Regions from separate parts of the Homo sapiens genome. Here regions 1, 3 and 4 are each linked to region 2. Evidence: fine-mapped expression QTL. A gene starts in region 2. Each other region holds a variant in brackets. All regions are shown on one strand. Distances are between the middles of the regions. Region 1 overlaps AP3S1 (adaptor related protein complex 3 subunit sigma 1). Region 2 holds the start of AP3S1 (adaptor related protein complex 3 subunit sigma 1). Region 3 has its middle 11 kb from the start of LINCADL. Region 4 has its middle 15 kb from the start of LINCADL.

The links. PIP is the estimated chance that this variant, and not a neighbour inherited with it, causes the effect.
Region 1: its variant is fine-mapped to the expression of AP3S1 in whole blood (TOPMed, PIP above 0.99). The same link has a PIP of 0.9 or more in blood mononuclear cells.
Region 3: its variant is fine-mapped to the expression of AP3S1 in whole blood (TOPMed, PIP 0.97).
Region 4: its variant is fine-mapped to the expression of AP3S1 in blood mononuclear cells (TOPMed, PIP 0.98). The same link has a PIP of 0.9 or more in monocytes after LPS, monocytes after Pam3CSK4 and monocytes after R848.

The regions. Positions count from the first base shown.
Region 1 is chr5:115,906,108-115,908,797 of GRCh38, reverse strand. The region is part of intron 5 of AP3S1 (adaptor related protein complex 3 subunit sigma 1); the gene reads right to left. Among named protein-coding and RNA genes, the nearest start is that of LINCADL, 49 kb to the left of the region's middle. The variant T/G (reference allele first, on the strand shown) is at 1,373.
Region 2 is chr5:115,840,622-115,843,275 of GRCh38, reverse strand. AP3S1 (adaptor related protein complex 3 subunit sigma 1) reads right to left here and starts at 1,341. Exons shown (of 6, transcript NM_001284.4): 1 at 1,170-1,341. The coding sequence starts at 1,238. ATG12 (autophagy related 12) reads left to right here and starts at 1,711. Exons shown (of 4, transcript NM_004707.4): 1 at 1,711-1,886. The coding sequence starts at 1,724. RefSeq lists enhancers at 495-704, 1,695-1,744, 1,755-2,054, 1,443-2,344, 2,348-2,654 and silencers at 795-984, 1,085-1,464.
Region 3 is chr5:115,943,781-115,946,470 of GRCh38, reverse strand. No RefSeq gene overlaps it. Among named protein-coding and RNA genes, the nearest start is that of LINCADL, 11 kb to the left of the region's middle. The variant G/T (reference allele first, on the strand shown) is at 1,214.
Region 4 is chr5:115,940,106-115,942,795 of GRCh38, reverse strand. No RefSeq gene overlaps it. Among named protein-coding and RNA genes, the nearest start is that of LINCADL, 15 kb to the left of the region's middle. The variant C/A (reference allele first, on the strand shown) is at 1,416.

The DNA of each region.
Region 1 (2,690 bases), 66 kb before region 2:
ATAGGCTTTGTTTTAATGGCAGTGCTTTAATACTGCAATTATAAACATTTAGATAAGCTCATGACAATTCTCTAGACAGCAATAACTATGGTGTTTCACAGTTTTAACAAAATTAGAGTGCTCAAAAATTTAAAAAACCTTCCAAATTATTAGTCATTTTGTACGGATTATCTTCAATTATAGCTTTAATTTCAAACATAGGATTTGCCTGCATGAAAAAAAGAGAGCAGACTAATGACTTTCATGGATTTATCATTACTAGTTTTGACCATTACAAGTGACCTCAAGGGTTCTCACCATAATTTTGTAGAAGTACAAGACAAATGTGTATGTCAAGGTAGAGAGGCAGAACCAGCTCATGAGCTGACCTTCCACCATCAGTACCTTAGAGCCACTTTTCTTATTCTCTCCTCTTTGAAAACAGAAACTTGATTTTTTTTAAAAAAGGCCAATTAACAGTTCTAGCAATAAAGTTAACAGACCCAAGTGATTAATGGTTCTTTGCTGGAAAATAGCAGTAATAAATTACATACTGTAACACAGAAACTGGCAATAATTCTGACCAATGGTGAGAATGAGACTACTATGTATTCTCTATATGAGGGACAAAATAACATGGATAGAGGGACCAAAAACGGTACCCCAGTTTTGTGACATAGCCCACAATCTCAAAATAAGATACTATAAAGCCACCTGTATGTTGCTACTTCTTCTCAAACACATCGAGAGAGTAAGTAAAAATTTAGTGGCTAAAAGGCAATGCTTTGTGATATCACCACAATCATCAATTCTCAGTGATGTTTTTCTAATTAGTAAGTGCATAATCTAACTTCGTAAGTTTATACATTTTTTCCTCCATAGGACTCAATAAATTACTTTTATTTTGAAATTTTCAATCAGAGACCTTATAAACATTTCTTTTGCTTACATGGTTTCACACAAAATAGTTGCTCATCACCACGTACATGGAACTTTTAAAAAAGTAATTCACACAGTTAATTTATGGTGTGAAAAAACGTACAGGAAATATCAGAAGAAAAATTAGTTTTGTAAAACTAGAGGTCTATTAAAAATATTTCCAATATTTGCCAATACGCTTTGCAAAAATATTCAGGGTTTTTAATTCAATACTAAAACATTAATATATTTTTATTGATTCTGATTATGACATGTTTGGATGTCAGAAGGTTTGCTACAATGAAAACCCATTGTATTTTGGTGATTTGGTAATTTGGTAATTCCATTTTTCGAGCATTCTAGTTTGAAATACAGTCAAGTTTTATAAGATTTCTGATCTTATTTTCTGTTGGCCACTGTTAATATGCACCTGCAGGTCAAAACTGTAAAAGCAATTCTGTTAAGACTTTGGAAC[T/G]GAAAACCATTTGAGGGGAAAAAGTACTATTTAACAGTCACTATTCTAAGCCTTCACTGCTTCCCATTTTGTATGCAAAACTCTGAAGGTTCAGCTTTTGGTTTTTAAATTCACAGCTTCCAAAACCCAGCAGGCAATTTTATGTTAGAATCCTAATTTAGAGATGGAAAAAAAACAAATCTGTGAGAGTTAAATTAAGATTGGTTCTGCTATATGATGCTCAAAATAAATTTTACGTTTTTATATACAAAGTAAATTGTCACTTCTGCAAATGCAATTTGTCAGTTAGATGACAAGTGTTTAAAAAAAATTTAAACTTTCCTTTTACAATGCAGGCAGACAAAACAGAACAAACATGACATCAATGATATACTAGTAAAATACACTAAGTCCAATAAAAGATGAAGAAACTACAAGGAGAAACTAGAATGGAAAATAGGCTACAGGGACTATATGGGTTTATTAACACAAAGAATTTTTGAGTCTGGCCTAAATAATTAATTGCCTTTGACATCATTTTGCTTTCCCTTTGTTATAGTACATATTTCTCAAAGTCAGCAATACCTTGTCTACCTGTCCTGTCTGGGAGACTGAAAGATAAAGGTCTGTAAGAGAGAAGAATGGAAAGAGCTAGAAAGATCAGGATGTTCGGAAAAAAAAGAGGACTGACTTTCAAAAAGTAGTGACTAAATTCAGACCCATTTATCCATCTTAAGAATAACATGAAATACATAAAAGCTAACAGATCTCCCCAACCCCACCCCTCTACCTCCACCCCCAGGGAGTCCTTTTATTCTTAGGCAGGTTCCTGAGTGCCTCTTATACTTCCCCCGAATCCCATCAACCTCCCAGCTTAAACCCTCCTCTCCCAATATTCCAATGTTATAGTAAACCATTTTTCTATCAAAATAGAATAGATGGAAATACATTCAGAGTATATCTTTGCTTCTCTCTTTCAGGATCTGGCAGAGCTTTGCTTCCACCTGTCTAGGTATTGGGAATTAAACTGGTTCACTTTTTTCCATTACCAGAAATGTACTAACTTTAGACCAACATAATAAAAGCTCTGATTTCTGACAAAGGCCCCTAGATAAATGCATGTTATGTTTAAAAAGCTGTGTCTCAATTATACCCAGACTGATTTTTAAATATAAATGATGTTCCTAAGATATTACTTAAATAATTTTTAAAAATATTGATAACCAGTTCTTTTCATCAATCATGACATTCTCGATTTTAAACAAGTCTTTTTTTGTGTGTTTGTTTTTGAGACGGAGTCTTACTCTGTCACGCAGGCTGGAGTGCAGTGGTGCAATAT
Region 2 (2,654 bases):
CATCTGGGACTTATCTGCATAAAAGTGTTAGCCTTGGCACAATTTCAAAATTGAATTGAAAGCTCATTTCTTGCTATAAGCAAAGTGCCACAATACCACACAACAGTTATACCTCACATTAATCCTACCACTGGGAGTCCAATTTTATGTGTTTCAGCTAGCGAATTCTGCCCTCAGGTAAGCACATAACTCTATAAAACCCTTCCTCGATCATCAACAAATCACTTATCTCTACTACCTTAATGCCTCCTGCACTTGTCCATACTAAACAGTATTTACACGTTAAAAGAGAAGTTCTACAAATGCTACTATTCTTCATAAATAGAAAAAAACTATAAATGAGGGCAAATTCCCATACGTGGAAAAATGCCAAACCAGAAGCTGAAATCATAACTTTTAGGTATAGAACCACAGCTCCAATCAGTCAACTACAAACGTCGCCGGTTACTTCGAGGGTAAATAATTTGCAGCCAGCTGGTAAAAAGCCTGATAAAAATATTAGGTCCTCACATATCTTCCTTTTCAATAAGGAGACACCTGAAAGTCACACTGGGCAGTCTGTCACGTATCGAAACATGCAGAAGAGAGACTGTACAGAACGTGCAGTTATCAAACGCAGGAAGCCAAAGTTCCTGTGCTATGAGAGGACCACAGTGAAAAACGGTAGCCCATCTGTCCAAAGAACAGAAAGAAGTCCACCTGGAAAGGATGGGAGTCGGCGGAGGGGGGCGAGAAGAACGAGTTCCACGCCGTCTTCCTCCTCCCGGGCTAACTGCAGCCGCGGGCGGCAGGAAGGCAGCCGCGCGGGGTGGGCTCTTGGGGACTGGGCGCAGGGCTCCGCGGCGCGGCTGGGCTGCGGCTGCCCGATCGGCGAGGGCCGGGCCCCGGGAAGTCTCCAGGGCCTCGCCCGCGCAGCCAGGAAAGCATGCAGCCCACCGACGGGCGGAGGAACCGCCCGGGCAAAGCCACGTCGGTGGCTGACCGCGCGGCAGGGAGGTGGGCACCCTGTCCACACCCACCAGGAGGCTGACAGCTGGCGAGCGCCAGGCGGCCGGGACGGGACAAGGGCCGCAGCGCGCCGGAGGGGGTCGCTCTGAGAAAGCCGCGCTGGGCGCTGCCCGTCGCCAACGACTCCCCCTCGCCCGGATCAGCGGCGGCTGGATACTCACGTAGGGCTGGTAGAACTTGGAGAGCCGCGGCTTCCCGTGGTTGTTGAAGATTAGGATCGCCTTGATCATGGCTGTGCCGGGCCGACCGGGTGGGCACTGGGGGCCAGGGCGGGGGCGGGCGCGCGAGCCTCGCCTCGTAATCTCGCCTGCGATCCTTCCCCACCCGCCCCCTCCCGCACGCGACCGCGCGCGCTCCCGAGCCGTCGGGCGGGGCCCAAGGGGCGGGGCCTGGGCGGGGCAGGCACTAAGGAAAGCGGAAACATTTCTAGGTCCGAGCCAGCGGCCTAACTGGAGTGTGCGCATTCGACCGAGCACAGACACGTTGCCCACCGCTCCTCTCCCGAGGTCTGTAGTCGCGGAGAAACACATGTTGCGTTACTAACGTTCAGAGGTCTGCGACAGCTTCGATTTGAATGACTAGCCGGGAACACCAAGTTTCACTGTGTAATTGCGTCCCCCTACTCCGGCGCCTCCTTTGCGACGCTCCCTGGAGAAAAGCACGCCCACTGCACGCGCTCAGTCGCTACTTCCGCTCTCGAGTGTCTCCAAGCAAGATGGCGGAGGAGCCGCAGTCTGTGTTGCAGCTTCCTACTTCAATTGCTGCTGGAGGGGAAGGACTTACGGATGTCTCCCCAGAAACAACCACCCCGGAGCCCCCGTCTTCCGCTGCAGTTTCCCCGGGAACAGAGGAACCTGCTGGCGACACCAAGAAAAAAAGTAACTGAATTTATTTCCGGGCAGAGAGGCGGGAGGTTCAGATTGCATCCGAGTAGGGGTGGCGGCCAGTAAAGAAGCAAAATTTAGAGGAGCGCCTGTCCTAGACCTGCATTTTGACCAGTCATCAGAAGAAAAGAAGTGTACTTTTTGATTTTTAAGGCCTTTAAGTTGAGTGTTAAAATACCATCTCTGTCTATCGGTGTAGGGCCTGATACTTGGCTGCCACACTTATTTTTATACTGTATTTTTTTGAGTTGGCCAGACTGCGAGCTCTTTGAAGGAGGGAGGGAGCTGAGTGGGGCGGGGGGAGGGGGGTCTCGGTAATTCCAGGTACTTAACACAGGAGCTAATTATTTGAGTAATGTTTTATGGTGGTAGGGGTGGTCATTGGCAAAGCCTGGATTAGAATTCATGCCTTCCAACTTAACTCGCTTTTGCTTTTTTCCCCCTCCCAGTTGGTTGTGAATTCACTCCTTAAACCAAAAACCAAATTCTTATGCAGAATGAAGACTGCTAAGGGAAAGCTAAAGGCATAGATGTTACCTTTTTAAGAAACACATTTTGGAACCTTTGTGAGTTATTTCATTGCTTGAGTCAGCTATCCTCAACCCTTTATTGCTTGAGAATGTTTCCCTTTGTAAAAGAGATTGCTAAAATTACGTGTTCTAAAGCACTCTGTTTAGAGTTAGAGTTGCCTATGGGAAAAGCAGCATATAAGCATCCTCGATTCAGAGAGGCTGATTTCGTCCTTAGACGTTTTCCCCGTTC
Region 3 (2,690 bases), 100 kb before region 2:
GGTATATGCCTATGATGCTACCTCACATTGTCCAATGTTGTGAGCAAACAGAATTAGAGATCAGCAAGAAAATTATCCCATCACTGCCTGTCACCTCAGCCTGTACCGCGAAAACTCCCTACTGCTACTGTAATGCCAGGCGGGGCCACCCTGAAAGAGCAGAGAGTGGGCCGGAAACAAGGACAATGAGGCTCTGTGCTTTCTATCTGGCCTAACAAACATGGAAGCCAAGAGCAGTGGCAAGTAACCCAGAGTGGAAGTCTGAAGGCTCAGGAATTCTGCTACCACCAAATGATGACCTTAAAGCTATCTATATGTACTGGCCTTTGAATATATCCAGGTTTTGTACATAAATGAGGTCACATGTATGGTAATGCCCCAAAGATACCACTTTGCCCACTTACTAGCAGAAATTCCAGTGTTTTCTGTCCAGGGGTTCTGTGGCCCTAGATATCTTCCTAGTGATGTTGTCAACATGAATTAGAAATTTACTGTCATCAGGCCAGATGTGCTGGCTCACGCCTGTAATCCCAGCACTTTGGGAGCCCATAGTGGGTGGATCATGTGGTCAGGAGATGGAGACCATCCTAGCTAACATGATGAAACCCCGTCTCTACTAAAAAATACAAAAAATTAGCCAGGGGTGGTGGTGGGTGCCTGTAGTCCCAGCTACTCGGGAGGCTGAGGCAGGAGAATGGCTTGAACCCGGGAGGCAGAGCTTGCAGTGAGCTGAGATCGCACCACTGCACTCCAGCCTGGGCGACAGAGCCAGACTCCCTCTCAAAAAAAAAAGAAAAAAGAAATTTACTGCCATCACTAACACTACTCCTTCTAAAATGATTCTGGAATAGGCTCCTTGAGGCTAGTGAGGGCCAGGGTTAGGTGCAGAAGTTGTACATTCTTGAACGGCCCAACTTTTCCAATTTATTATACATATTTGATAAATGCAGGGCATGCAGTACAGTAAGCTAAATGTTGTAGGATTGGTTCTCCAGAAACAGATGCTGAGATGGAGTTTGGGTTGCAAGATGTTTATTAGGGATCAATACCTATGACGGGAGGGGGTTAAAGCAGGATTAGGTAGAGGGAGAAGTCAACAGCAATGTAGGTCAACCCAGCAGGGAGCTCTAGAGTGGGTATGGTCCTTCAGAGTTGTCCCAAAACAAATATCCAGGGCTTTATATTCCTGAAACAAATGGCCAGGCCTTGTTCA[G/T]TCACCAGATGCACAGTGCCCAGGATGGGCATGACTTTGGGCAAAGTGAGTCTCTGCAGCTGAGGCAAAACTAGAAGAAGCTAACAGCTGTAGACTGTTTCTGATTGCACTATCACTGCTTGTCAGCAAATCCTTCCTTGAAGGGGGATCTCAACGGTTCATACCTGTGTCTACCACACTGACGGGTTAGTCCACACCAAGGAGGGAGGAATGCCTCTTTATTCCTCGTCCCATTCAAGTCTTTTAATCTCATCTCTTGAAAAGGAAGTCAGAATTGCAGACATGAGCGCCTTTACAAGTTAGGCAGCAAGACTGAGCTTGCCACTAACGTTTATCCATCCATCCAGCAAGTAAGGATTTATGGAGCATCTATTCTGTGCCAGGCACTGTGTTAAGTGCTGGAGATTGAGACATTAATAATTGACCTCAAGGGCTACAGCCAGCTGAGCAGATACCTCATGGATGGGCTTCCCAGTCACATGGATTCCTTTTACTGTGGGAATAGCTTTGATGCACAGTGGGGCCCTTTCATCAAACGCAATTGATCCAGTGTTGACACTCAACCCAAGCTGATGCAATCCAATTTCCTACTCTGGAATGTGTAAATTGTAGTGGAAACACTTGTGAATGGGGGGTATCGAAGCAGAGAGGCATTAATGGCGGGGCCCTGGAGAGAAGGTTCATGCACACCACATATCATTGTTTCAATATCAAAACACTGAAAATAACTCACATACCCATTAATGGAAGATTAAGTAACTGGTCATGCAGCCATATAGTAGAATATATATAGACACTAAAATTATAATGATAAGCTCTATTTATTTGCGTGGTATATATCCATAACATGTTATTTAAAAAAGCAGCATTTAAATATGTTAAAATGGAAAGATTCAATGCATATAAAATATCTGCTTATCACTGGAGTATAGAAATTAAGCCTGTGTTTCACTTTCTTCTTAAAATATTTTCTCATCCTCTGGATCTTCTGCAACAAAAATATGAGGCCAGCATCATCCTGATACCAAAGCCTGGCAGAGACACAACAAAAAAACAGAGAACTTTAGACCAATATCCCTGATGAACGTCGATGCAAAAATCCTCAATAAAATACTGGCAAATCGAATCCAGCAGCACATCAAAAAGCTTATCCACCATGATCAGGTTGGCTTCATCCCTGGGATGCAAAGCTGGTTCAACATACGCAAATCAATAAATGTAATCCATCACATAAACAGAACCAAAGACAAAAACCACATGATTATCTCAATATATGCAAAAGGCCTTCGACAACATTCAATAGTGTTTCATGCTAAAAACTCTAAATAAACTAGGTATTGATGGAATGTATCTCAAAATAAGAAGAGCTATTTATGACAAACCCACAGCCAATATCATACTGAATGGGCAAAAACTGGAAGCATTCCCTTTGAAAACTGGCACAAGACAGGGATGCCCTCTCTCACCACTCCTATTC
Region 4 (2,690 bases), 100 kb before region 2:
CACCAAAAGCAATGGCAACAAAAGCCAAAATAGACAAATGGGATCTAATGAAACTAAAGAGCTTCTGCACAGCAAAAGAAACTACCATCAGAGTGAACAGGCAACCTACAGAATGGAAGAAAATTTTTGCAATCTACCCATGTGACAACGGGCTAATATCCAGAATCTACAAAGAACTTAAACAAATTTACAAGAAAAAAATCAAACAACCCTATCAAAAAGTGGGCAAAGGATATGAACAGACACTTTTCAAAAGAATACCTTTATGCAGGCAACAGACACATGAAAAAATGCTCATCATCACTGGTCAGCAGAGAACAGCAAATCAAAACCACAATGAGATACCATCTCAGGCCACTTAGAATGGCGATCATTAAAAAGTCAGGAAACAACTGATGCTGGAGAGGATGTGGAGAAATAGGAACACTTTTACACTGTTGGTGGGACTGTAAACTAGTTCAACCATTATGGAAGATAGTGTGGTGATTCCTCAAGGATCTAGAACTAGAAATATCATTTTATCCAGCCATCCCATTACTGGGTATGTACCCAAAGGATTATAAATCATGCTACCATAAAGACACATGCACAGGTATGTTTATTGCGGCACTATTCGCAATAGCAAAGGCTTGGAACCAACCCAAATGTCCATCAGTGATAGACTGGATTATGAAAATGTGGCATATATCCACCATGGAATACTATGCAGCCATAAAAAAGGATGAGTTCATGTCCTTTGTAGGGACATGGATGAAGCTGGAAACCATAATTCTGAGCCAACTATCACAAGGACAGAAAACCAAACACTGCATGTTCTCACTCACAGGTGGGAACTGAACAAAGAGAACACTTGGACACAGGGCAGGGAACATCACACACTGGGGCCCGTTGTGGGGTGGGGGAATGGGGGAGGGATAGCATTAGGAGAAATACCTAACGTAAATGACAAATTAATGGGTGCAGCAAACCAACATGGCACAGGTATACATATGTAACAAACCTGCAGGTTGTGCACATGTACCCTAGAACTTAAAGTGTAATAAAAAGAAAAAAAAAGAAATTGAAACTTAAGTACAATATGATTCATATAGGTTGCTATTATTATTATCATTATTATTTTAAGTATGAGCTCAGATGACTCAACCTGAAGTAAAGATTCCTAGCAGCTCAGGAGCTCTGCTATGAGAGGAGTGTCCATGAAACGCTCGGGCCGACAGTTCACATCTTCTCCTTCTGCCCTTCCTCCCCCTGCCCCAGTGTGCAAGTTGCTCAGAACGCTCAGCTGTGAGCATCTCTCAGCTGTGAGCCGATTCTTCCTAAAATAACTAGAACAGTCCCCTATGTTTTCCACATGGGATATCAGTGCTCTTCTCACATTTTTTTAAGCCTCGATCTTGATATTTTAATTCATTTTC[C/A]ATTTCATTTCTGTAAGACTTTCCTGGTTGTGAAATGTTAGTGTGGTCAGTTCATGTTTCATTAACTTCCCCTCAAGCCTATGGAGATTTCTAGTTTGCTAAGGACATGTAGATATGGCCAGGCCCACAAATGTTGACTGTACACTGACTCTAACAAAATTCAAGGGGAATTTCCAATGTGGTGAGAAAGGCATGTCCTACTGACAGGAAGAGGGAGGGAAAGGGTGAAGCTGAAACATAAGCAACTTCCTAGGAGCGGCAGTGTCTAAGGAATGCATTAAGGAAGAGGGACTGCCAGCTGGGCGCGGTGGCTTATGCCTGTAATCCCAGCACTTTGGGAGGCTGAGGCGGGTGGATCACGAAGTCAGGGGTTCGAGACCAGCCCGACCAACATGGTGAAACCCCGTCTCTACTAAAAATACAAAAATTAGCTGGGCGTGGTGGCGGGCGCCTGTAATCCCAGCTACTCAGGAGGCTGAGGCAGGAGAATTGCTCGAACCCGGGAGGCGGAGGTTGCAGTCAGCCGAGATCGCGCCACTGCACTCCAGCCTGGGCGACAGAGCGAGACTCCGTCTCAAAAAAAAAAAAAGAAAGAAAGAAAGAGGGACTGCCAAGAACATGGTGCACTTGTTAGTCCCATAAGAGCAGAGCACAGCCTCAGCATTGTTACCTCTGGATAAGAACATGCATGAATTCAGAGACCAGGAAGTTCCAGTCTCTTCAAGGATTAAGTCAGAGAATCTTAAGGGATAAGAGTCTGGCCATACAGTTCCAGGAAGAAGCTCCAACATCTGTTCCATCTGTGTCTGGGCCCAGATTGGGACACCATGAAGCCAACTGGCAAAATGTATTATTTCCCCTGGCCAGAAACATAGCATCTTTAGAAATGTAAATTCTCCTTGACTTTTCTCCCTATTCCATATGTTGTTTTCATTATTGGGTTTTGTTTTTCTTCTTATCAGATTTTCTTCCTAACTACTTCAAACCTTGACCTTGGACACACCTCAAAAAGAAAAATGCTGCCACCACCGATTCTGTGAGCCTGGAAGACGGTAGCTTTGGGAGGCAGGACGAATAAAGTTTTCTTCAAGGTCATATATTACTTCATAGTGGAGCTGGGGTTCTGCAATCCCTGTGGTGCCTAACACAGAGCTTTGTACACAGGAGACATTACAGAAATGTGTATTTGCTAATTGTAGGTGAATTCCTGAAAGTTGTGTGTGAATTCCATTTTTATAAATTGAATAATACTTTTAAAACATATGGGGGGCATGT